Linked DNA regions of Homo sapiens. The protein of the gene in region 6 interacts with the protein of the main gene of each other region in a pairwise test. Each region holds a gene or a part of one and is shown on either strand. Other genes may lie near its edges.

Evidence for each region.
Region 1: the proteins of PMP22 (region 6) and TM4SF18 interact in binary tests that used the Homo sapiens proteins (3 or more experiments, as listed by UniProt).
Region 2: the proteins of PMP22 (region 6) and SYT2 interact in binary tests that used the Homo sapiens proteins (3 or more experiments, as listed by UniProt).
Region 3: the proteins of PMP22 (region 6) and CEACAM3 interact in binary tests that used the Homo sapiens proteins (3 or more experiments, as listed by UniProt).
Region 4: the proteins of PMP22 (region 6) and KCNN4 interact in binary tests that used the Homo sapiens proteins (3 or more experiments, as listed by UniProt).
Region 5: the proteins of PMP22 (region 6) and FCGRT interact in binary tests that used the Homo sapiens proteins (3 or more experiments, as listed by UniProt).
Region 7: the proteins of PMP22 (region 6) and TM4SF19 interact in binary tests that used the Homo sapiens proteins (3 or more experiments, as listed by UniProt).

Annotation. Positions count from the first base shown.
Region 1 is NC_000003.12:149,320,818-149,323,636, reverse strand, and holds part of TM4SF18 (transmembrane 4 L6 family member 18), read left to right. Parts: intron 1-1,200; coding exon 1,201-1,381; intron 1,382-2,144; coding exon 2,145-2,159; 3' UTR 2,160-2,819.
Region 2 is NC_000001.11:202,700,455-202,703,954, forward strand, and holds part of SYT2 (synaptotagmin-2), read right to left. Parts: intron 1-3,500. UniProt on the Homo sapiens protein: Exhibits calcium-dependent phospholipid and inositol polyphosphate binding properties. May have a regulatory role in the membrane interactions during trafficking of synaptic vesicles at the active zone of the synapse.
Region 3 is NC_000019.10:41,806,587-41,809,320, reverse strand, and holds part of CEACAM3 (cell adhesion molecule CEACAM3 isoform 1 precursor), read right to left. Parts: intron 2,211-2,734; exon of another isoform or gene 1,704-2,210; intron 1,547-1,703; exon of another isoform or gene 1,288-1,546; intron 509-1,287; coding exon 391-508; intron 1-390.
Region 4 is NC_000019.10:43,778,174-43,782,365, reverse strand, and holds the start of KCNN4 (intermediate conductance calcium-activated potassium channel protein 4), read left to right. Parts: upstream 1-1,392; 5' UTR 1,393-1,504; coding exon 1,505-1,663; intron 1,664-4,192. UniProt on the Homo sapiens protein: Intermediate conductance calcium-activated potassium channel that mediates the voltage-independent transmembrane transfer of potassium across the cell membrane through a constitutive interaction with calmodulin which binds the intracellular calcium allowing its opening.
Region 5 is NC_000019.10:49,519,161-49,522,660, reverse strand, and holds part of FCGRT (IgG receptor FcRn large subunit p51 isoform 1 precursor), read right to left. Parts: intron 967-3,500; coding exon of another isoform or gene 848-966; intron 1-847. UniProt on the Homo sapiens protein: Cell surface receptor that transfers passive humoral immunity from the mother to the newborn. Binds to the Fc region of monomeric immunoglobulin gamma and mediates its selective uptake from milk.
Region 6 is NC_000017.11:15,237,827-15,241,326, forward strand, and holds part of PMP22 (peripheral myelin protein 22), read right to left. Parts: intron 1,786-3,500; coding exon 1,645-1,785; intron 56-1,644; exon of another isoform or gene 1-55. UniProt on the Homo sapiens protein: Might be involved in growth regulation, and in myelinization in the peripheral nervous system.
Region 7 is NC_000003.12:196,325,718-196,328,388, forward strand, and holds part of TM4SF19 (transmembrane 4 L6 family member 19), read right to left. Parts: intron 1,875-2,671; 5' UTR 1,874-1,874; coding exon 1,673-1,873; intron 1,316-1,672; coding exon 1,238-1,315; intron 1-1,237. UniProt on the Homo sapiens protein: Negatively regulates vacuolar (H+)-ATPase (V-ATPase) activity by interacting with members of V-ATPase V0 complex and hence inhibiting V1-V0 complex assembly. Required for multinucleation during osteoclast differentiation.

The DNA.
Region 1 (2,819 bases), on a different chromosome or scaffold from region 6:
TGAAGATAACAGGATTAAGAGATTAGAGTAAAAACAGGCATAAGAAATTATAAAAGTATTATTTGGGAACTGATAAATGTCCATGAAATCTTCACAATTCATGTTTCTCTGCCGCGGCTCCAGCCAGTCCCACCATTTGGGGTCCCCGACTTCCTGCAACATTGCAAGTCATCTTGTTTTAAATTGCTAGATGATCTGTGCAGAGCATGTACTAGGAACAGTCTAGAGGAGGGATCTGGAGGGACTCATTTCCCTGGCAGCTGAGATGGAGATAGGGGTAAATGGGGGTATGAGATAGGTTTAGGGAAATTTAACAGAAAGCCACATCTGTATTGTACTTTACAGGTTCCAAACTGTTTGTATACACATTCTTACCAAATATTCACAATAACTCTGGGGTTAGATATTTTAACCCCATTATCAAGATAAGAGTCTGGAGGGCCAGGCGCGGTGGCTCATGCCTGTAATCCCAGCACTTTGGGAGGGTGAGGCAGGCAGATCATGAGGTCAGGAGATCGAGACCATCCTGGCTCACACGGTGAAACCCCGTCTCTACTAAAAAAATACAAAAAATTAGCCGGGCGTGGTGGCGGGTGCCTGTAGCTACTTGGGAGGCTGAGGCAGGAGAATGGCGTGAACCAGGGAGGCGGAGCTTGCAGTGAGCGAAGATGCGCCACTGCACTCCAGCCTGGGCGACAGAGCAAGACTCCGTCTCAAAAAAAAAAAAAAAAGTCTGGAGGCCAGAGGGGTAAAGTTCTTTGCTCAACATCCTGCAGACCCAAATCCAGGAATTCTGATTTCATATTCTGTGCTCTTTCCCATTGGAGACAAGAGCCATTAACAATATAAAGAAATTCTCAGAGTGCCTCTATTTCCTGGAGCATTAGAAAGTAGAAAATAAATAAAGGTGGGGAAAGAGTAAAAAAGAAGGAAGTAGGAAAGAAATGGAAGAGGGAGAAAGAAAAACAAAGAGGCCATGGGGGTGATAAGGCAAGCACAACATTTATAACACACTAAGTATCTAGCTCAGTGCTATGCATAAGATATGTCCAATATGTGTATCTGAATGGTTTTTAAAATGTATTAATTCATATCTAATAACTATATATTTTAGTTATACAGTAATTTCTCAAACATACAAATGCTTGTAGCTTTCTTCCTTGGACCCAGTATGTAGATTTGGCCATGGGTCTCTCTCAGTTTCCTTACAGATTCTAGCATATGGATTCAGTGCCTGGAACCTGCACATGTTGTGGAGTGGAACATCATTTTATTTTCCATTCTCATAACCCTCAGTGGGCTTCAAGTGATCATCTGCCTCATCAGAGTAGTCATGCAACTATCCAAGATACTGTGTGGAAGCTATTCAGTGATCTTCCAGGTAACAGATTCTCATGGGCACCTGTAGCTCATCCATATTTCCCCCACTTCCCAGGATTCAATGAGGCTTTTTGAAAAGACTCTAGAATTCCATCACTTTCCCCCCATTTCTATTGCCCTCATCTTTATTCAAGCTCTAATATCTCAATTTTTTCTGATATCCCAATGTGTCTTGGCTTATCTATAAGGGTTGAATCAACTCAGTAATTGTAAAATCTGCATTTCTTGTTGTATGGTAAGGCTTCATAAGTGTTTTGAATGAGCAAAGTTTTAGTGTTCTACATAGAGATAACTCAAAGCATGATGAAATTTTACCATTTATCAAGAATTTCCCTGTTCATAAGTTAAGCAAAGGCTCAGAACCTTATCTCATTGAAATAACTTCTCTTCTGAATGCTGCTACATTCAACTAATGAACCTTTATCTCGAGTGCATAGGAGTGCTTTTGAAGAAGAAGGGAAATATGTATTTATCCCATTGAAACTACTTCTACTTCGTCTGCTAAAATACTAATGTTAATTTAGTTATGGTTGAAACTGCTATCAAGAAGTCCAGAGTGAAGAAAAATTATGAATTTAGATGGCTTGTATTTTGTTTAACAACAGAATGTGTAATACCTTTCCTAGCAATTTCTAAGAGATGTTTTTTCTGTTCTATCATATTTTGAATATGAAATATAAGTTTAAGTTGCTATCTGGATTACGGATTACTAATCAAGCCAAGTTTATAACTTTAATCACTTTGTTTTTCCTTTTTTCCTATAGCCTGGAATCATTTGAATAAGGACAAAATGTTTTCCATTATCAAGACATGGCCATCTATCTAAATATTATATCAACTGTGTAGACTTGAGGGCAATATTGAAATGATGGTGCTTTCTGCATTTGGTGTTTATTTGTAAAAAATTTGCAGTCCTCACTGCACATGCAAGTATACCACCCTTCCATTTAGTATGTTTTTTAAGTAATATGCATCAGAAACTTCAGAAATACTTCTGCCCTTTGATCAAACAAATCCATTTCCAAGAATCTGTACTAGGGAAGTAAATAAGAATATGAGAGAAACCTTTATGCAAATATGTATATTGCAACATTATTTAATATTCTGGAAAATTGGAAACACCCCAAAATTCTAAACTCAGAGGAAGGATTAAGTAAAGAGTGGTACATACTGTAAATGTTTTCTGATATTAAAAAAAAAATTAAATAAAAAATAAAGAGTACTACATGGTTGTAAAATTACAGTCATTACAAATGATGTTTTTAAAATTATGAATAATGCTACATCAAAAAGCAGGTTACAAATTCATGTTTACTATATAACTATTTAAAGCAAATGAAACACTAATAGTCAAAGTTTAGGATGAAAACTAAATCTAAAAGGAAATATAACAAAATGCCAATTATGCTTGGTTTGGGGCATTGATGACCCTTCTTCCC
Region 2 (3,500 bases), on a different chromosome or scaffold from region 6:
ACCCTCCAAGAGCGTTTTCTTATGTAAGTTAGATCCATCCATAGTTACCATATTCAAAATTAAAACTGAGAAATTTCTAAATTAGCTCAAAATACAATAGTAACTCATTACCTGTTAATACAACATATTTAATAAGTAACTATATTTTCCAAGACCAAAAAAATATATAGTAGACGTTTTCTCTAGTAAAATATCTAGTAAGAAGGAGGCCTTGTTTCACATCATTGCAAATCTCTTTAATGTGTGGTTTACTAGAAGGTAGCTAGAGTTTTATATCAACTTCGGTGTTCGGTCTGTCTGCAATACATTACTTTGATTGAAAGATGAAAGAAAATCCAACCTCACTCAGATATGTAACTGGAAAGGGGAGGGGTATTTAATAAAGCCTTTTCAGATCATTGTGGATATTTTTCTTTGATATGACATCACTGCTCCCCAAGTGGTAGCTTCTTAAAGACTGGCTGCAGTGGGGAATCTGAAACCTTGCACTTGGAATGCTTGTTTGCCTCTGTGCATGATTTTGTGACATCATTCATTTATCATTTCGAAGATATTGGCTTGCCGAATTGTGAAGATCTTTCAAATATTGATGAATTTCATTAAACAATATTAACAAATCACATCTATTACTATTCCCACTGATCTTATCACAAAAGTCCTTTTCATAGTAATATGTGTGAGTTTTCCAAAATTCTAATTTTTGCTTGAAAGCTTAAATTTTATCATTGGCCACAAATACTGCCAGTTGTTTTTCTGGAAGTGACGAGCTCACTTCGTTCATTTTTGCAAAAATGCCTGCTCAACACCCAAGTCTGAATAACTGGAGTTTGTTGGTTGTTCTTTCAGATAAAATGGTATCCCATGGAAAAATGGCTAGTTCAGCCTGCAACTCAAACAGATGCACAGGTGATGGGCACTGTTCAGTTGCTTGAGAAATTATTGTGTAATATTTCTGTAAGAAGCAGAAGTGCTTTATGTGTACTTCTCATTCCATCACAGAGAATATTAAAAAGATGTGCACTCCAGAATCAAGCTTCAATATAATTATAATCTTTGCTGCTTCATGAAAAGAAGACATTCTTAACTGAAAATGGCATTTCATTATTTACCAATTACTTTGCTTAGCGGGTGTGTAGTGTGGAAGAACACAAAGACGGGTGCAGTGTGATACTATTACCTTGATTCATGGTAAGGTGCCAGCAGCTTCACCCACCACTGCTTTAGCACCATCAATGTCAAGCATGGGAATGGCAAATAACTTTATTGCCATCATGGAAACTGCTTTGACCTTATGGACCCCCCTGAAAATTCTTAGGGACTCCCAGGGACCCGTGGCCCCCATCTTGATTACTGCTATAAGGTAAACTTCACAAGGGCCTGTTCCCTGTGTGTTACTGTCTCCATTTTCAGATGAGGACCCCGAAGTTCAGAAAGTTTAAGTAACTTGCCCAGGGTCACACAGGCAGGAAGTGGCAGTCTTGGTTTGACCTAGGCCATCTGACTCCCAGCCACACACACGCTGCTTCAGTTATGCCCTACAGAACATGCTGTGGGGGCCTCTCCTCTGCCCCTTCCCCATTGCCTCACCTCCTGAGGTCTTTGGGGCTCACGATCTACTCCAGGGGAGGCACGAAGACACCTCCAGGTTTGCAGTGGTGAGGACCTGGGCTTCTATTACTGTCTGCCCCAGGGCACCCCTGCCACCCTCTACCAGTAGGAGACCTAATGGGGGTGGAGCACGCCTCCCTGGGAAGCCTCAGACGTCTGGGGCTGGCTTGCCAATGGCAGGCTCAGTTCTTGATGCTTCCCTGCCTCCTGCAGCTGCAGCAGCAGCAACCAGCACAGTTCCCAGCATCAAAGAGCTAATCCAATTTCTCAGCTGTGCTTCCCCCTTCGCCTCCTGCAATGCCAGGATTGATTTGGAAACAGGGCAGCCTTATTAAAGTGATGCCTTTTCCTACTCGTGGGAGAGTCAAACTGGGAGAGGGAGCCCTCCCACAGCCAATTAACTCCATGCTTCCCGCTAACACTGATCCTAGCCACAGCCACCCTTGAGTTTCCTGGGGTTTACCTGTAACTCTTCTTAGCTCCTAGTGGTGAGGATGGATTTCAGTCCTAGGTCTGCTTCCCTCCAAGACCCAAGAGCACTTAACCAATAGGTTCTTGTTCATCCTTCCTGCACTTCTAGAGGGTTGCCTGGGTGGTCCCCTCTCCTCCTGCTTGCAGGCCTCCACCCCGTCTCCTAACATCCCATCTTAGGCCCTATGACCGGGCCGTCACTTGGTCCATCTGAGTTGGTACAATGAAAGATACATGGCAGACAGCCCCAAGAGGGATAGAGGTAAAGACCTGTACATTTGTTAAATGGGCTTTTCTCCAAATAAACACAGGAGGCAGAAGACAAGGACAGTCCTCAGAGACCTCTACCACCCTCAGCCCAAGCCCCTCTCCAGGCCCCCCTCCTTGCGGCCTCACAGCTCTCCTCTAATCTAGGGAGTTAAGGTGTAGCAGAAGCAGAGAAGGCCCCGCTCCAGAAAATGCTTCCTTTCTACAAATAGCATAAAAACTGCTTCCCGAGTCACTTTGTAGAAGAGGAAGGACATGCACAACACATCTGGATCATTAGTTCAGACTGGAATCAATGGTGAGGAAAAGAGATTTCTCTCAAACCACCCAGCCCTTAGGGAGCAGAGGTTCTCTGGGAAGGTCTTTGGAGCTCAGAGCACTGGCTGACCTTGGGGAAGGCATTTCTGGTCTGGAAAGGAAAAAATGAGCACCACCTCTTTGACGCTACCACCCTCCCACCCCCGGCCACCGCTCCCCTCCCTCCGCCGCCCATACACATGGCCCTACCCAGCTCAGCCCTGCAATACCACAAATGCCTCATTTGACTTCAGAGGAAAATGGAGCTAAGAGTAGGAGTGAGGAAGGGAGTAAAAAGAAGGGCGGGGGAAGGAACAAGTGGGGAGGGAGAGATGAAGGTACAAGGTACCCTCTCCTGTCTCTCACATGCACACTACTGCAGGTGGTTACAACTCTTTTCTGTTTCTCCACAGCTGAGCAGGAAACTGGGAGAAGAGCCCTTCTCCCCTGCAGCCTCTCCCTCTTGGCCTCCATCACCACTCTCCTAACCCCTGCCAAGCCCTGCATCTGATCCTACCTGAGCTAAAGAAGCAGAAGGTCCGGAGGGAGCCTGTGATTTTTGCCTCGGTCACCTCTTACAAATGCGGTGGGCTGCTGGGCTCGCCCTAACCCTGCATCACCCCCAGGCTGCTCCTTCAGTCTACTCGGGTATGGAAAGGGTTAAGCTCCTCCCATCCCCTCCTTCCTTCATCCCATTTCTCCATTCACTTCTATTTTCCCATATGCCTAGTGCCAAGCTCACAGTTACAACCACTTACACCCTGTATTAAGATGCATGGAATAGTAATGGGTAAATTCCGTCTCTAATTGCAATATTTCCTAATTACTAAATTCCAGAGCCACTGTATCAACCCAAT
Region 3 (2,734 bases), on a different chromosome or scaffold from region 6:
GGAGCCTGCAAATCCCCCTCACTGTGTGGATGGATTCAATGAACAATGGGAGGTACCAAGTACAGAGCACGCCCTCCCTCCCTCCCTCCCTACTTCCCTCCCTCCTTCTCTCCCTCCCTCCAGGCAGCTGTGGCTTTGCTGTGTGAGGGAACTAGGGCCACACTCAGGGGTGGGGCCTTAATTGGGCCAAATTCACAGAGGAGGAAGCTGTTGAGGCAGCAACCCAGGGTCAGGAGCTGACGAGGGAGGAGCCGTGGAATAAGAGGGAAGGATCCCTGGGGACTTGGGAGGCCGTGGAGAGCCTGGCCCTGAATACAGGACAAGGTCTCCTTTCTTTTGGCCTGGAGTCAGCCTAGGGGGTGGGAGAAGGATGGGAAAAAGCTGTGGTACCTTCCAGTTTTGGCAAGGAGCAGGAAACACACCAGCGCGGCCACCAGCGCCACTCCGACCAGGACCCCGGTCACGATGCCGGCGACGGCCCCCACAGGAAGGCCTGGGGCATTTTCTTCTGCAGAAAGAAGAAGGCAAAGGGGATAGAGGCCCAAGTCTATCCCAGAGGAAACCACAGGGGCCTTGCAGGGAAGGTGTGCAGTCAGGGAAGAAGGAGATGCCATGGGGCCTGAGTGTAGTCTCTTGTGTTGTCCTCATCACAGATTCCCTTGCTTTCCATGGTGGCACCATTTTCTGCAGGCTTGACACACTGGGCGGCACCAACTCATACATTGTCCCAGAGGTGCCTGCACCTCACCCTGCTCCTGTGCCTTTTAGTCCCTCCTTCCTCTCGCATCATGCCTCTTCCCTCTGTTTCTCCTTTTCCATCCCATGACACTCACAAAGGGCAGGCCCTTGGCATCAACTCAATGCTGATAAGCAGGGATGATGTTCATTGACTGTTTTCAGGGGCCTTCCATGTGCCAGTTCCAGTGGGCACCAACCTACCTACAACTCATCTCATCCTTACATCACCTTGAGGGAGAGGGGGCATCACCCCCAGCTGCAGAGTTAGAATCTGAGACTTAAAGCACCTCAGTAAGTCAAGGAAGGTCACAGAACTCGTAAGTGATAAAACAAAATTTGTACAACATTCCAGGCTGGCCCCAAGGTCAGCTGTGAGAAATCAGAACAACAAGGGGAGGAGGGGTCCTGCAGAGGTGGAGTGAGAGGGCTCAGGGTAGAGTTTGGGATTTGCTTGTGTCCAAGACATGGGCTGGGAAATAAACTTCTAGGCTCTTTCAGAAAACTGAGTGGCTTTACCCAGGGCTCAGGGCCTATGCTCCAGGGATCCACTTAGCAGAGACTGTGATTGTCTTGACTGTGATTGTACTGAGGCCAGTGGCTGAGTTATGGGCGAGGCAAGCATAGGATCCACTCTTATCCACTGCGATGTTGGGGATAAAGAGCTTTTGTGTGTGTTGCTGGAGCATTCCACTGACAAACCAGGAGTACTGTGCAGGTGGGTTAGAGGCCATGTGGCAGGAGAGGTTGAGATTTGCCCCTGGATGGTAATAGGAGTCTGGGGGGGAAATGGTGGGAATGCCCGGTCCATCTGGAGTAGCGAGAATAAAGTCATAGATGATATCATCAAAGGGAAGGGGAAGCTCCTGGTCTGTGGAAGAGCCACAGTGTCCCTGTGAGCCAAGTCACAACCTTGAAGTCCTAACGAAACCCAATCTGTCCACTGAGTCTGGGTCTGAGATATTCACCTGTTTCTCCCATCACAGGCTGTGGACCCTGAGCCTCCCAGGACAGGAGCAGCCTCTCCCCTCCTATTCTTGGTCAAGGCTGGGTCTGCCCAGGTTTGCTTGGGACAGGAAGTGATGGCCAGCCTGGGTGAGAGTCTGAGTCCCTGGACTTGAGAGGGACTGAGAGGCCTGGCCTCTGGCTGTGTGGATTTGGGCTGGAAGCCTGGGCCACAGAGGAACAGAAGATACAGAGGACATTCAGCGTGACTGGGTCACTGTAGCTGGCACCCACTGGGTTCGGTATTTCACACTCATAGGGTCCTGTGTCATTCCTTGTGACACTGAGTAGAGTGAGGGTCCTCTTGTCATTGGACAGCTGCAGCCTGGAACTGACCGGGAGGCTCTGACCATTTACCCACTACAGGCAGGTTGTGCTGTGAATCTCAGGTTCACAGGTGAAGGCCACAGCATCCTTGTCCTCCTTGGGGTTGGAGTTGTTGCTGGAGATGGAGGGCTTGGGCAGCTCCGCTGTGCAGAAAACAGAGAGAAGATTGCCCTGTGTGGCACCTGTGATTCCTCCACAGGCATATTTTAATCAGAATCAACATCTCCTATTCTTTGGCCAACTCCACTCCTTAAAAGACCAAGACAAGGCCGGGTGCGGTGGCTCACGCCTGTAATCCCAGCACTTTGGGAGGCCGAGGCGGGCGTATCACGAGGTCACGAGATCGAGACCATCCTGGCTAACACGGTGAAACCCCGTCTCTACTAAAAAATACAAAAAATTAGCCAGGCATGGTGGCAGGCGCCTGTAGTCCCAGCTACTTGGGAGGCTGAGGCAGGAGAATGGTGTGAACCCGGGAGGCAGAGCTTGCAGTGAGCCGAGATCGCACCACTGCACTCCAGCCTGGGCGACAGAGTGAGACTCTGTCTCTCAAAACAAACAAGCAAACAAACAAACAAACACACAAACAAAAAAAGACGAAGACAGATGTGTGTGTCACAGACAGATGCATGACCGTCTGAGGGCTCAGAGACTGTGAGGCTGCCTG
Region 4 (4,192 bases), on a different chromosome or scaffold from region 6:
GTGTTTATGTGTTTTGCGTTACTGTGTGCTGGTGTATTACTCCGCGTATGTTGTTGTGTGGCCACGCATGTTGGAATATAACGTGTTGGGTTGTGTGGAGGTATTGTATGTCATGTTTGGGTGTGGCTCATGGCTCAGAGGTGATGGTGTATGTTGCGTTTGTTTTTTTGTTTTTGCTTGTTTTAGAGATAGGATCTTGCTATGTTGCCCAGGCTGGTCTCAAACCCCTGGGCTCCAGCAATCCTCCCACCTCAACCTCCCAAACTGCTGGGATTACAGGCATGAGCCACTGCACCCAGCCGTATGTTGCATTTGGGCACTGGGGTCTATGAAGGTCCAACCCCATCCCCTTCCCCCAGGGCATCATCCTGGATGTTGTCCTGTGTGGCCAGAATATACCAGAATCATCTTGCTTCAGGCATGTGCTTCTTGGGTTTCTCCGTGTGTCGCTGTACCTTGTAGGTCTCTGCATGCATCCACTCAGCTTGTCCTCTGACCATACATTTGAATCGCACCACACATCAGAGCATGCTGAATCAGTGCGTGTTTTGAATCATCACTGCGAGCACTTGTGTTCGAGTCAACAGGCGCCACAATGTATGTGCAATTCTCTAGCTCTGGGTGATTGGGGGCTACTATAGGTATGTCCCTAAATGTTGTGTGTCTACACGTATTGGGTTTCGTTCCAAGGGTGTGTAGTGTTTAGGAAACTGGGACTGCACAGTGTTTGTGTCGGTGTGTGGTGTGTGGCATCAGGGCGTCACTACTTTAATATATATTGTGTGTTTGTGTAACACCTGGTGTATGTTGTGTTTGTGTGGCCACAGTTGTGCATCGTCCTATTTGTGGTGTTTGGGTGTGGCTCTTTGTGTCAGAGAAAGTTGTGACAACTTTGAGTGTAATATTTGTGCCTGTGTGTGGACGGTGTTTGGGTGGCTGTGTGTGCCACGGGATACTGCCTGCTTGCTAAGTGCTGGTGTGTGTCACACCATGTGTGTGGTGTCTGGGTGTGGCTGTGGGTTTCAGAGCTTGCTGGGAGTTGTGAGTCACTCTGTGTAGGTTGTGTTGTGTGCCCTGGTGTGTTAGTCTCCGTCTTGGGCTGTGGAGTGTCCTTCGGTGTCTGGGTGTGGTGAGTAGAGGTGTGTGTCACAAAGTACAGACCATTGTGTGTGACAAAGCCCATCGTGTGTCTGTGTGTGTCTTTATCCACGTGGATGGACGTCTCTTTCTTGCTCTGCCCCAAGACACACCCTAGCCCCTCCTTATTCTCAAAAGGGGGAGCTGGGGAGCCTCCCCCTACCCTGGGGCCTCCCCTGCCCCTCCCCGCCCTGCCTGGCCGTCACCACTCCCCAGAGGGCACAGGGCTCTGCTGTGCCTCAGAGCAAAAGTCCCAGAGCCAGCAGAGCAGGCTGACGACCTGCAAGCCACAGTGGCTGCCCTGTGCGTGCTGCGAGGTGGGGGACCCTGGGCAGGAAGCTGGCTGAGCCCCAAGACCCCGGGGGCCATGGGCGGGGATCTGGTGCTTGGCCTGGGGGCCTTGAGACGCCGAAAGCGCTTGCTGGAGCAGGAGAAGTCTCTGGCCGGCTGGGCACTGGTGCTGGCAGGAACTGGCATTGGACTCATGGTGCTGCATGCAGAGATGCTGTGGTTCGGGGGGTGCTCGGTGAGTGGGGCATGGTGGCTGGGAGCTGGGACTCCTAGGTCTGAGGGAGGAGGGGCTGGGGGTCAGGACTCTTGGGTCTGAGGGAGGGGGGGCTGGGGGTCAGGACTCCTGGGTCTGAGGGAGGAGGGGCTGAGGGTCAGGACTCCTGGGTCTGAGGGAGGAGGGACTGGGGACTTGGACTCCTGGGTCTGAGGGAGGAGGGACTGAGGGCCTGGACTCCTGGGTCTGAGGGAGGAGGGGCTGGGGGTCAGGACTCCTGGGTCTGAGGGAGGAGGGGCTGGGGTCTGGACTCCTGGGTCTGAGGGAGGAGGGGCTGGGGGTCAGGACTCCTGGATCTGAGGGAGGAGAGGTTGGGGGCCTAGACTCTTGGGTCTGAGGGAGGAGGGGCTTTGGCTGGGACTCCTGGGTGCTCCCAGGAGACAGTTGCTGGGGTCCTTCTCTGCAAAAGGAAGGGAATATTTGTTTCAGTGTTTCAGTCTTTGAAGATGTTGCCATTAGACGGCCAGAGGTCCAGGACCCCTGGAGGCCAGAGGGTGGCTGATCAGACACTCAAGCCCCCCAAGAGCCAATAAGGGGAGAGGTAGCCCCAGGTTTGGTGAAGGGAGAGTGGAGGAAAGACAAAGTTCTTCCAGTAGGCGGCAGCTCTTTGGTCCTTGTCTAACCTCTAATGTTTACCCAGTGCCTTAGATGCAAAGGACAGAAAAAACTGCCTTGGGGGTGGGGATGGGAAATGGGAAACAAACCTCTCCCCCGACCTGCCTCCCCCCACCAACCCCAACCCAGTCTCCACTGTTAACAAGCTCAATTTCTCCCCAAATCTGCATGCTGATTAGTCAGGGAAATAGTGGAGAGGTAGGCTTACAGTGGCCTGGACTCCTAGGTACCAGGAGAGGAGGGGGCTGGGTCCTGGATTCCTGAGTCTTAAGGAGAAGGGGGTTTTGATTGCTTTTGGGGAAGAGGGGCTGACTCCGAAGATGAGTGGTGAGTAGGGAAGAAAGGGGAAAGTGGGGTCAGGGCAGGTCTCAGCAGGCTCCCGTCACATTCCAGCCCTGGTCAGGCCAGTGATGGGGCAGATCAAGGACAAGGGTTGGAATAAGTGGCTTGAGGGGAGAACAGACTTGCTCAACAGGAAAGGAGGGGCTGGAGACCTCTCTGGCAGAAGGGTTGTGGAACTGGGCTGGTAGGGCCAGATGCGGACACTGATATGAAGATTGGGTAGATTCCTGAGGGTCTGATGTTCCGACTTGGATCTGGAGGGGGTGGTGGGCAGCTCTGAAGTGACCAGGAGCCACATGGAGGGTCAGGCATGCAGCTTCCTCTGGCAGGCGGCGGGCACTGAGGGGGTGGGGCCGCCGAAGTCCATGCCAACAGGAAGCATGGCCGGGGCCTGCCCGCCGCTCCCACGCCGAAGCACCGCACCCAGAAGCCGAGGTGGGAACACAGTGACCCTGGCAGATGGGAAGAGACGGGGTCCATCCTACCCCACTTCACCCCTCTGCTTTCTCACCCCTCATTTCTTCCTTCCCTCCACCATGGCCAGGCCACTGCCTCTATCAGTGGGACCTTGGGGAAGCTGTTACAACCCTCTGAACCTCAGTTTCCCCATCTGTAAATTGGGGTGAGGGTTAAAATACATGACCCTAAGGGTCACCCTCCACCCTTTTTATTTTATGTAGAGATGGGACCTTGCTTTGTTGCCTAGGCTGGTCTTGAACTCCTGGACTCAGGCAATCCTCCTGCCTCAAAGTGCTGGGATTACAGGCCTGAGCCACAGCTCCTCAGTCCCCTTTTGAGGACTCTCTTAATAACATCCACCGCCCCTCACCACCTCCATCTCAATCTAATGAGCTCATTTCTGCAAAGGACCCAGACACCTGCTCCCCAGGGGGAGGGGCTGGCAGAGAGGCAGGTGCAAAACCCTAGGGAGTCCAAGGGAACTGGATAGAGATATCCAAAAGCACCAGGTGGGGTGGAGGAGGAGGGATGGGGAGAGGTACAGAGAGAGACAGAGACACAGAGATACATGGAGAGAAAAAGAGAGATGGAGACAAAAATGCAGAAAGATAGAGAAGTACAGCTAAAGAGAAAGACAAATAGGGCTATCAAGCTACTGAGAAATCCACCAGTGAGAGATACACACACAGCGTTAGAAAAGACAATAGAGGGCCGGGCGCGGTGGCTCACGCCTGTAATCCCAGCACTTTGGGAGGCCGAGGTGGGCGGATCACAAGGTCAGGACATCGAGACCATCCTGGCTAACACAGTGAAACCCCATCTCTACTAAAAACACAAAAAATTAGCCAGGCATGGCGGCGTGTGCCTGTAGTCCCAGCTACTCAGGAGGCTGAGGCAGGAGAATGGTGTGAACCCAGGAGGCGGAGCTTGCAATGAGCCAAGATCGTGCCACTGCACTCCAGCCTGGGTGACAGAGCAAGACTCCGTCTCAAAAAAAAAAAGAGACAATAGAAACAAAGACCCTCAAAACACATAGAAAGACAGCAACAACCATCCCTAGAGACAGGGAAATTC
Region 5 (3,500 bases), on a different chromosome or scaffold from region 6:
GGAGGTCGAGACCAGCCTGACCAACATGGTGAAATCCCATCTCTACTAAAAATACAAAAAAATTAGCCAGGCATGGTGGCGTGTACCTGTAATCCCAGCTACTCAGGAGGCTAAGGCAGGAGAATCGCTTGAACCCAGAAGGCGGAGGTTGCATTGAGCCAAGATTGCACCATTGCACTCCAGCCTGGGCGACAGAGCAAGACTGTCTCAAAAAAAATAAAAAATTAAAAATTTTAAAAAATTTAAAAAAAGATTCAGAACTCTTAAACATAATATTAGCAGACAGGCTGGGTGCAGTGGCTCACTCCTACAATCCCAGCGCTTTGGGAGAATGAGGTGGATCACTTGAACCCAGGAGTTGGAGACCAGCCTGGGCAAACAGTAAGACGTAGTCTCCACTACAAATAAAAAAAATTAGCCAGTGTGGTGGATGTGCCTGTGGTCCCACCTACTCTGGAGACTGAGGCAGGAGGAATCCTTGAGCCCAGGAGTTTGAGGCTGGAGTGAGTTATGATCACACCTGGGTATAGCCACTGCACTCCAGCCTGGGCGACAGAGCAAGACTCCGTCTAAAAAAAAAAAAAAAAATTCATAAACTTTATAAAATGTATAAATTGAAGTCGATAAACTGAACTTCACTGAAATTAAGAATTTTTGTTCATCCAAAGGTTTCGTTAAGGGAATGAAAAAAGGTTGGGTGCAGTGGTTCATGCCTGTAATCCCAGCACTTTGGGAAGCTGAGGCAGGAGGATCACTGGAAGCCGGGAGTTCAAGACCAGCCTGGGCAACATGGAGAAACCCCGTCTCTGAAAAAGTTTAAAAATTAACTACGTGTGATGGTACACACCTGTGGCCCCATCCATTCAGGAAGGGTAAGGTGGGAGGATCGCTTGAGCTTGGGAGGTTGAGGCTGCAGTGAACTCTAATCCCGCTACTGCACTCCAGTCTAGGCAACAGTGCAAGTGCCTGTCTCAAAGAAAAAAAAAAAAAAAAGCCGGGTGCAATGGCTCATGCCTGCAATTCCAGCACTTGGGAGGTCAAGGCAGAAGGATCCTTACGCCCAGGCTTTCTTTTCCTTTTTTTTTTTTTTTTTTTGAGACGGAGTCTCTGTCGCCCAGGCTGGAGTACAGTGGCACAATCTTGGGTCACTGCAACCTCCGCCTCCTGGGGTCAAGCGATTCTCCTGCCTCAGCCTCCAGAGTAGCTGGGATTACAGGCGCACACCACCACGCCCAGCTAATTTTTCTATTTTTAGTAGAAACAGGGTTTCACCATATTGGCCAGGCTGGTCTTGAACTCCTGACCTCGTGATCCGCCTGCCTCAGCCTCCCAAAGTGCTGGGATTACAGGCGTGAGTCACTGTGCCCGGCCAAGCCCAGGACTTCTAGACCAGCCTTGGCAACAAATACCCCATCTCTACAAAAAATAGAAAATGTTAGCCAGGCATGGTGACGTGTACCTATAGTCCCAGCTACTTGTAAGGCTGAGGCGGGAGGATCTCTTGAGCTTGGGAGTCCAAGGCTACATGGCGCTATGACTGTGCCACTGCACTCCACTCCAGTCTGGGCGACAGAGCAAGATCCCAGCTCAAAAAAGAAAATAAAAGGCAAAGATTTCAGCAACTGCCTAGGACTGGGCATTACTGCCCAAGTTCCTTTCAGGGAGGGTGGATCTGGGCAATCGTGGGTCTTGGCTGGGATCTTGGTTTTGGTTGCTCAGCAGAAAACACATTTGCTGCTTCAGGAAAGCACAGCAGCTTCTCCCTCCTGGAGCTGCCTCTCTGGCAAGTCGGCAGAATTTGCTGCACCGTCAGGTGGAATGGAGGGACCGGGCTGACGGCCATCAGCAGTTCTGGCTTCTGCTTTATGTTCACTATTCTTTTCAGCAAATCTGTATCTTCCTGTGTCGTGCTCACAGCCACGTGCCTTCAGCCTCAAGGTACTTCCAATATAGACTAAATCCAAGCACAGAAAATCTGTCTGGCCTTTGGTTCTGTTTAACAAAATACCAAACCAGGTCAGGCATGGTGGCTCACGTCTGTAACCCCAGCACTTTGGGAGGCTGAGGCAGGCAGATCACCTGATGTCAGGAGTTCAAGACCAGCTTCGCCAACATGGTGAAACTCCATCTCTACTAAACATATAAAAATTAGCTAGGCATGGCAGCGCATGCCTGTAGTCCCAGCTACCCTGGAGGCTGAGGCAGGAGGATCACTTGAATCCAGGAGGCGGAGGTTGCAGTGAGCTGAGATCATGCCATTGTACTCCAGCCTGCGCAATAAGAGTGAAACTCCATCTCAAAAAAAAAAAAAAAATCCATCCTGGCCAACATGGTGAAACCCTGTCTGTACTAAAAATACAAAAATTAGCTGGGTGTGGTGGTGTGTGCCTGTAATTCCAGCTACTAAGGAGGCTGAGGCAGGAGGATCACTTGAACCTGGGAGGTGGAGGTTGCAGTGAGCCGAGATCGTGCTACTGCACTCCAGCCTGGTGACAGAGGGAGACGCCCTCTCAAAAAAAAAAAAAAAAAAGCCCGGGCGCGGTGGCTCACGCCTGTAATCCCAGCACTTTGGGAGGCCGAGGCAAGTGGATCACAAGGTCAGGAGTTCAAGACCAGCCTGCCCAACATAGTGAAACCCCATCTCTCCAAAAAAAATACAAAAATTAGCCAGGCATGGTGGCACGCACCTGTAATCCCAGCTACTCAGGAGGCTGAGGCAGCAGAATCGCTTGAACCTGGGAGGCGGAGGTTGCAGTGAGCCAAGATCGCAACACTGCACTCCAGCCTGGGCGACAGAGCAAGACTCCATCTCAAAAAAAAAAAAAAAAAAAAAAGATTAAGGCAATGGCCATTGCTATCCGCTAAAACCATCAGGAGAAAACCTGACAAAGAACTTCATAACAACACCCGAATCCAGTGGTCCACAGAACAGCACAGAAGCAAGCAGATGTTTGCAGCCTATGCACACAGACATACGCACCAACTACCCAGAAAGTTTTCTTGCCATAAAAATTGAACCAGAATCTGACCAAGCTTCTAGATGGAGCTGCTCCTTTAAAGAAGAGAAGGAGGACTATTTCCAGCAACATCACAGGATGCAAAGGGCAAAATCCAGTCTAGGAGAAACTCAATAGGACATAAACTGACTTTCTTCAAACCACAATTACAGGGGGAAAAAAAACAAAAAGAAAATGGGAAACCTGTAAATCAAAAGACACTCAAGATCACAAGTAACTCAAATTACCTGAAAATGAATCACAGACCTAACTGTAAAATGCAAAACTTTAAAACTCTTAAAATACACAGGAGAAGATCTAGCTGACTTTGGGTTTGGTGATTACTTCTGAGATTAAACACCAAAAGCATAATCCACGATAGAAAAAAAAAAAAGAATAAACTGGATTTCATCAAAGTTAAAAACTTTTGCTTTGTGAAAGGCACAGTTAAAACAATGAAAAGACAACCTAGAGAGTGGAAGAAATATTTGCAAAACACCTATC
Region 6 (3,500 bases):
AGGCACATCTCACACATGGGCATGAAAACCCAATCATCGCTTATGAAACTAACATTTCAATAGAAATACATTATGAAAGTTCTGGTTCTAAATCCATATTATCTTGAGGGCATATCCACTGATGCAATGGATATGATCATTATTTGATTTGATATCAAACTAAAACGAGTGAGAAAAAAAAAAAGAAACCCCAGAATATGTTACAGTTGTTTTTATTCCAACTGAAAATTGAGTAAGGGTAACTCTTCACTTTAACGTACCTAGAAATGATATCTCCTTGCATAATTAGTCATTTAACAGAGCCAGCAACCATCCAGGAGCTTGGCTTGGTGTCATAAGACATGTGTAAGTAGCAAAGCACTGTCTGGTTTTGAAATCTCAAAACCATGAGTATTGAAATGTTGTATTTGAGTGTTTAATGAGAAGTGGTTAATCATTTACTTCCTTTTTTCAGGAAAGGGGAACTCTCTGTCTTCTAGACAAGGTCACCAACATCTAACCTTGGGCTGTGTCTTCCCATACAACCCTATTTACGTCAACCTTCCAATGACTGCTCCTGGGGACAGAGTGGTGAAATGGTACCATGGGCATTCTGACAACCAACTCAGAGAAGAGATGCTACATCCTTTGCCCTCTCAGAGGGTCAGAATTGAGAACATCTCCCAGTACCTAGACATACTCTGGTACATATGAAGTTTGTGATCTATGAATTTGGACCACAGAATCCACCACTACATCTAGCTCTTACTTCTCTCCAATGCCCTGCTGGTTCAGTCAACAGTAAGTCAACAGACAGACATGTAAGAGCTAATGTAAGATGCTAGGCAGAATGCAAGATGTAAGATGTAAGATGTAAGATGTAAGCATGTAAGATGCTAGGCAGAATCCAGAGACAAAGTTGGAAGATGTCACCCTGTGTAACAGAAGTTTCTAGGACTCTGCACACTATGCATATTAATAACGTATTTAAAGAGGGAACTTGAAGACAGTTTAGGCAGGAGATTAAGGAGACCTCTCATGTGTTTTCATGTGTTGTCATAGCCCCATGTTTGGAAATGACAATATGTGACACAAGAGTGTCAAAATGAAGACACCAGAGGATGACAACAGTCAATCAAAGCCCAGTAGAATCTAGGAACTGGAAGCAAGGAAGGTGAGAATTTGTCAGTGTGGCTTCATCACTACCTATTGGTGGAAGACACATACCTGATAACTACTTTGCTAGTTCTTAGCACATCAGGGCCATTTTCTGGAGGCATAATGTAATCTACAGAAACAGCTCTCAAGCCTGACCTTTGCTCTACAGATAGCCTCAGTATTCACCTCTGATTATGTGTCCAGATTGCAGTTTCATTCCTGTTGATACGCCTGGCTTGGGTGGGGACCTTCCTTCCAGATCCTCTAAGTTCTCTTTCATATGCATCTCATTCCAGGGAGAAGGGGAGAGTTCTAAGTCCCAAGTTCTAAGACACATACAGGTACACACCCACACATACAAGCACCCACCCTCACTTTATGGAAAGCATCCAGTGGGGAGACTCATGAACATCAGTCATTCTGAGGCCACATCCTTCTACTAAACTAATCATTCCGCAGACTTGGATGCACCCCGCTTCCACATGGACTTTACCATCCACAACTTACCAGCAAGAATTTGGAAGATTCCAGTGATGTAAAACCTGCCCCCCTTGGTGAGGGTGAAGAGTTGGCAGAAGAACAGGAACAGAGACAGAATGCTGAAGATGATCGACAGGATCATGGTGGCCTGGACAGACTGCAGCCATTCTGGGGGAAAGAGACACTTGGTTAGGAGAGCTGGCCATGGCCGGGGGAGGGCTCTGCCTCGAGGTGCAGGGCCTGAAGGGCCATGACTGCTGACAGCACAGTCCTCACAGGCAGCAGAAGCAGAAGTCCTTTTTCCTTAGCAGAACTCAGACAATTCACTTTTGCAATCTAAGAAGACATTCTTTATTGTTTATTTTGGAGGAAAAAATATATACATATATACATACATCTATATGTACTGATATATACATATACAAACACACACATGTGCCAATATGTACACATTACATACATATATACCTATATGTACAAATATGCATACAAATATGTACGTGTTTCTATATATATGTGTATATACACATATACAAATACGTGACACACACATATATATAAAAAACACATGTGAACATTCAGGGAAGGGCTGTAAAAAAATATCTATAGTTCCATCACTAGGAGTTAAAGTCATTTTAAAATATATTGAATTTCCTTCCAGTGTTGGTGCAAATGTGTTACTTATGTACATGTGTCTGTGTTAAAGAGGGCCTGAGCCCTGCCTACTACCTTCCCTCTTCTTGCCCTCAGGGGTCTTTGAAGGGCTTATCAGAACTTCTGTATTCCAAGAAAAATAGCTTAAAACCACTATTCAAATTATCTGCATTCCCCAAGGAGAGGTAAAGATCACGGGAATGGCTGTTAGAGCCCAAAGTAATTTTTTGGAAGAATGGAAGAAAATACTGATGAAGAAAGGTATGCTCTCTATAGGTATGGAAATCAATTTGCTTGGACAACCCGTATTTTTTTTTTTTTTTTTTTTTGGTCAACTCTGATCATGGCCATTAGCCTCAGCACAGAGCGGTGTGTGATCGCCAACCACCAGACGGGATGAAGGCTTACACTTCCTTATCTCTGTTGAACCCCAAATCTCCAAGCTTCCAACTGAAATTCAGGCAAGAAGACAGAGCCTCCTATGGTTTCTTCAGTTCACCATCCGCTGCAAACTCATGTCATTTCAGGGAGGAAAGAAGAAACAACCTGAGTTCCACACTGTAGAGGGAAGCCCAGGGTAAAAATCTGCATTTGGCCTCTGTCTTGTCTTCCAAGTGCCACAGAATGCTGGGGGCAGGCACTGCTCTCATGGAGGAAGGGCAACTGGGGAAGCTGCAGCATTTAATCCTTTCAGCTCAGTAACTGCCATATGTAATGGCTTCAAAAGCATACCTTCAATGCTTCACCCAGTACTCACAGCTCTGAAATCTGGATGGTTTATAATTAGTAACTGAGTAAGATAAACTTGTTTTGAGTTGTAAGCAGCTCATGGCAGAATTTTAAGGGTGCAAATTAGGTTAACTGTTCCTAGATTTTCACCTAAGATGTTTCCAAGGCACAGACTGGAGATATTTTAGAGTTGGAAGAAACCTGAGAGATCAACTAGTCCAGCTCCTTTGCACTGAAAGAGATTTCCAGAGGTGTTTTCATGAGCCCAAATGACACAGCCAAATCTAAGAGGCCTTTGATTCTAGTCTAGCACTCTTCACATTCAAGCACAACATATGCTTCTTTCATTTTTTCAATTTCTTTGTCAATTAAAGTAAGAAAATGACGGCTAATGGGTTGTGAGCCATCCTGATTTCACTCTTACATAACCTTAATCAAATGTTTGTCTTTATCCAGCATAGAGGTTCTTCTGGAGGAGCACTTTGCAATAAAGATAATGT
Region 7 (2,671 bases), on a different chromosome or scaffold from region 6:
TAGGGCAGTGGTTCCCAAAATGGGGTCCCTGCCCAGCCGCATCACATCACCTGAGAACCTGTTAGAAATGCAAAACTTCCCCGCCATCCTGAATCAGAAACTCTGGGGAGGGAGCCCAGCAATCCGTGTTCCGGCAAAAGCCCTCCAGGTGATTCTCATGCACATTCAAGTGTCAGAACTACGTGCCACGGGGAAAACCAGAATGAGAACAGACAGTGAATGAAATGTGCAAGTGTTTATTTATTTATCTATGTACTTATTTATTTATTTATTTTGAAACGGAGTCTCGCTCTGTCGCCCAGGCTGGAGTGCAGTGGCGCCATCTCGGCTCACTGCAAGCTCCGCCTCCCGGGTTCAAGAGATTTTCCTGCCTCAGCCTCCTGAGTTGCTGGGATTACAGGCGCCCACCACCACGCCCAGCTAATTTTTGTATTTTTGGTAGAGACGGGGTTTCACCATGTTGGCCAGGCTGGTCTCAAACTCCTGACCTCAGGTGATCCGCCCATCTTGGCCTCCCAAAGTGCTGGGATTACAGGCGTGAGCCACCGCGCCTGGCCTATATTTGATTTTTTAACATGTAACTGAGTCAGTGGGCTTCCCAACATGTGGGCTGCAGATATCAGAGCAGGCTGTGGAGTTACCATAAGGCCACAGATTCATGTCTGAGAACGAGTGTGTGTGTGTGTGTGTGTGTGTGTTTGTTACACACACATATACTGAGATCTTTCAAGTTTATACAGTTGCTGCTGTAATTAATAAGGTAGAAATTTATTCTGGGCCTCAGTTTATCTGTAAAATGGAGGGGTTAGATTAGAATCTAGTGATTAGATGATCTCTGGAAAACTTTCCTGTTCTAAGAAAATATTAGTTAAAATAACTAGGAAAATTTCCATCAATGACACATGATTACAGTGTCATAACTCATGTCCATATTGTCCAACACCCTAAGAGAGTAACAGTTTCTCACACTGGTACAGACGTCTGGGTCCTCACACTGGTACAGACGTCTGGGCTTCACTAAGCACTACTCCCTTGACTTGATCAGCTCCCATTTTACAGATGAAAGCCTGAAACTGGAAAGATGAAGCAACTTGCCCAAGAACTTAGCGTTACTGAGGGTCACAGTGAGGACCTGACTTCAGGCCCCAAGACCAAAATTGCCTCTTTACCGCCCTGCCTCTAGAGTAATAGAGGTGGAGACATTCTGGGTGTTAGAAGAGTGGAATCTGGTGCTTACGCTTCGACAGAGCCCACTCTTACTGAAGCAGCCGTATCTCCAGCCCATCAAGGAGATGAGGATAGCTGCAGTGAGTACCTGCAGGAGAGAGAAGAATGTTGAGATGGGGAAATCGACTTTGCCGGCTGTTTCTAGGTGCTGCCCACAGCTGTTAGAGTGGCTGGCAGCTCACATGAACGCAGTCCTGTTGACTCTGACTCTGGGGACCCACATTTGTATGACGAGCCTGATCTAACGCTGTGGATGTTAACTTTCACACCCGACCTGCCTGGTCCCAAGCTAGGCTTCCTGTCTCTTAGAGCTTCTACAGACCCAAGATCAGCTTGTTAGAATAAACTTTTCTGCAAGGAATCAAAACACTCTTCCCATGCCACCTTCCTGCTCCCCGCCGGGGTCTCTTTGAGAGTTCACGTTCAGGGAACCCCGGACACTTACCATGAGGCCTCCTCCCCAGAGCCCAGTTCCCAGCATGGCATGCCTGCCAAGGAGGCCCCTCAACAGGTAGGTGACATCCCAGTTAGGAAGGAGGAGTGCCACGTTGGCCCCAGCAGCAAACAGGGCTGCAGTCCCAAGGCTCAGTCCCAGGATACGGGAGCAAGTCCGTGAGCTTGCCTGCGTGCAGGGAGAGGACACCATCCTGGAACAGATAGAAAGGGAGTCGCAGCAGCTCTGCTGTGGGGGGATGGGGAAGGGAACTCCAGCAGCATATCATGGGTGAGGGAAACAGACTACAGAAACCGCCACCTTCCAGGGTCAGACCAATGAGAGCCAAGCAACCTGCTTAAAAACTCTGCTCCTTAGGAATCTTCCCCAGTGACTAGGATTTAATTGTTTCCTTTTCTGCTAACCCCTGTTCACACATACATAGTTTGCATTCCATCATATTTTGTTTATGCCTCTATTACAGCCAGTGATTATTTCTGACAAAAAGAAATGTTTAAAGGTGTCTTCATGATGTCCATTGTCTCCACTTCTATTCAACGTTGTACTGGTCCTGGCCAGTGCAATACGAAAATAAAAGGAAGCAAAAGCCACACAGATAGGAAAGAAAGAAGTAATATTGTCGGCCAGGCATGGTGGCTCAGGCCTGTAATCCCAGCACTTTGGGAGGCTGAGGCAGGCGGATCACGAGGTCAGGAGTTCAAGACCAGCCTGGCCAACATGGTGAAACCCCGTCTCTACTAAAAATACAAAAATTAGCTGGGCACGGTGGTGGGTGCCTGTAATCCCAGCTACTGGGGAGACTGAGGCAGGAGAATTGCTTGAACCCGGGAGGCAGAGGTTGCAGTGAGCTGAGATCATGCCACTGCACTCCAGCCTGGGTGACACAGCAAGACTCCATCTTAAAAAAAAAAAAAAGTAACATTGTTATTATTCACAGATAATGTGATCACATTATGTAGAAAATCCTAAAGTTTATTAGAATTAACAGGT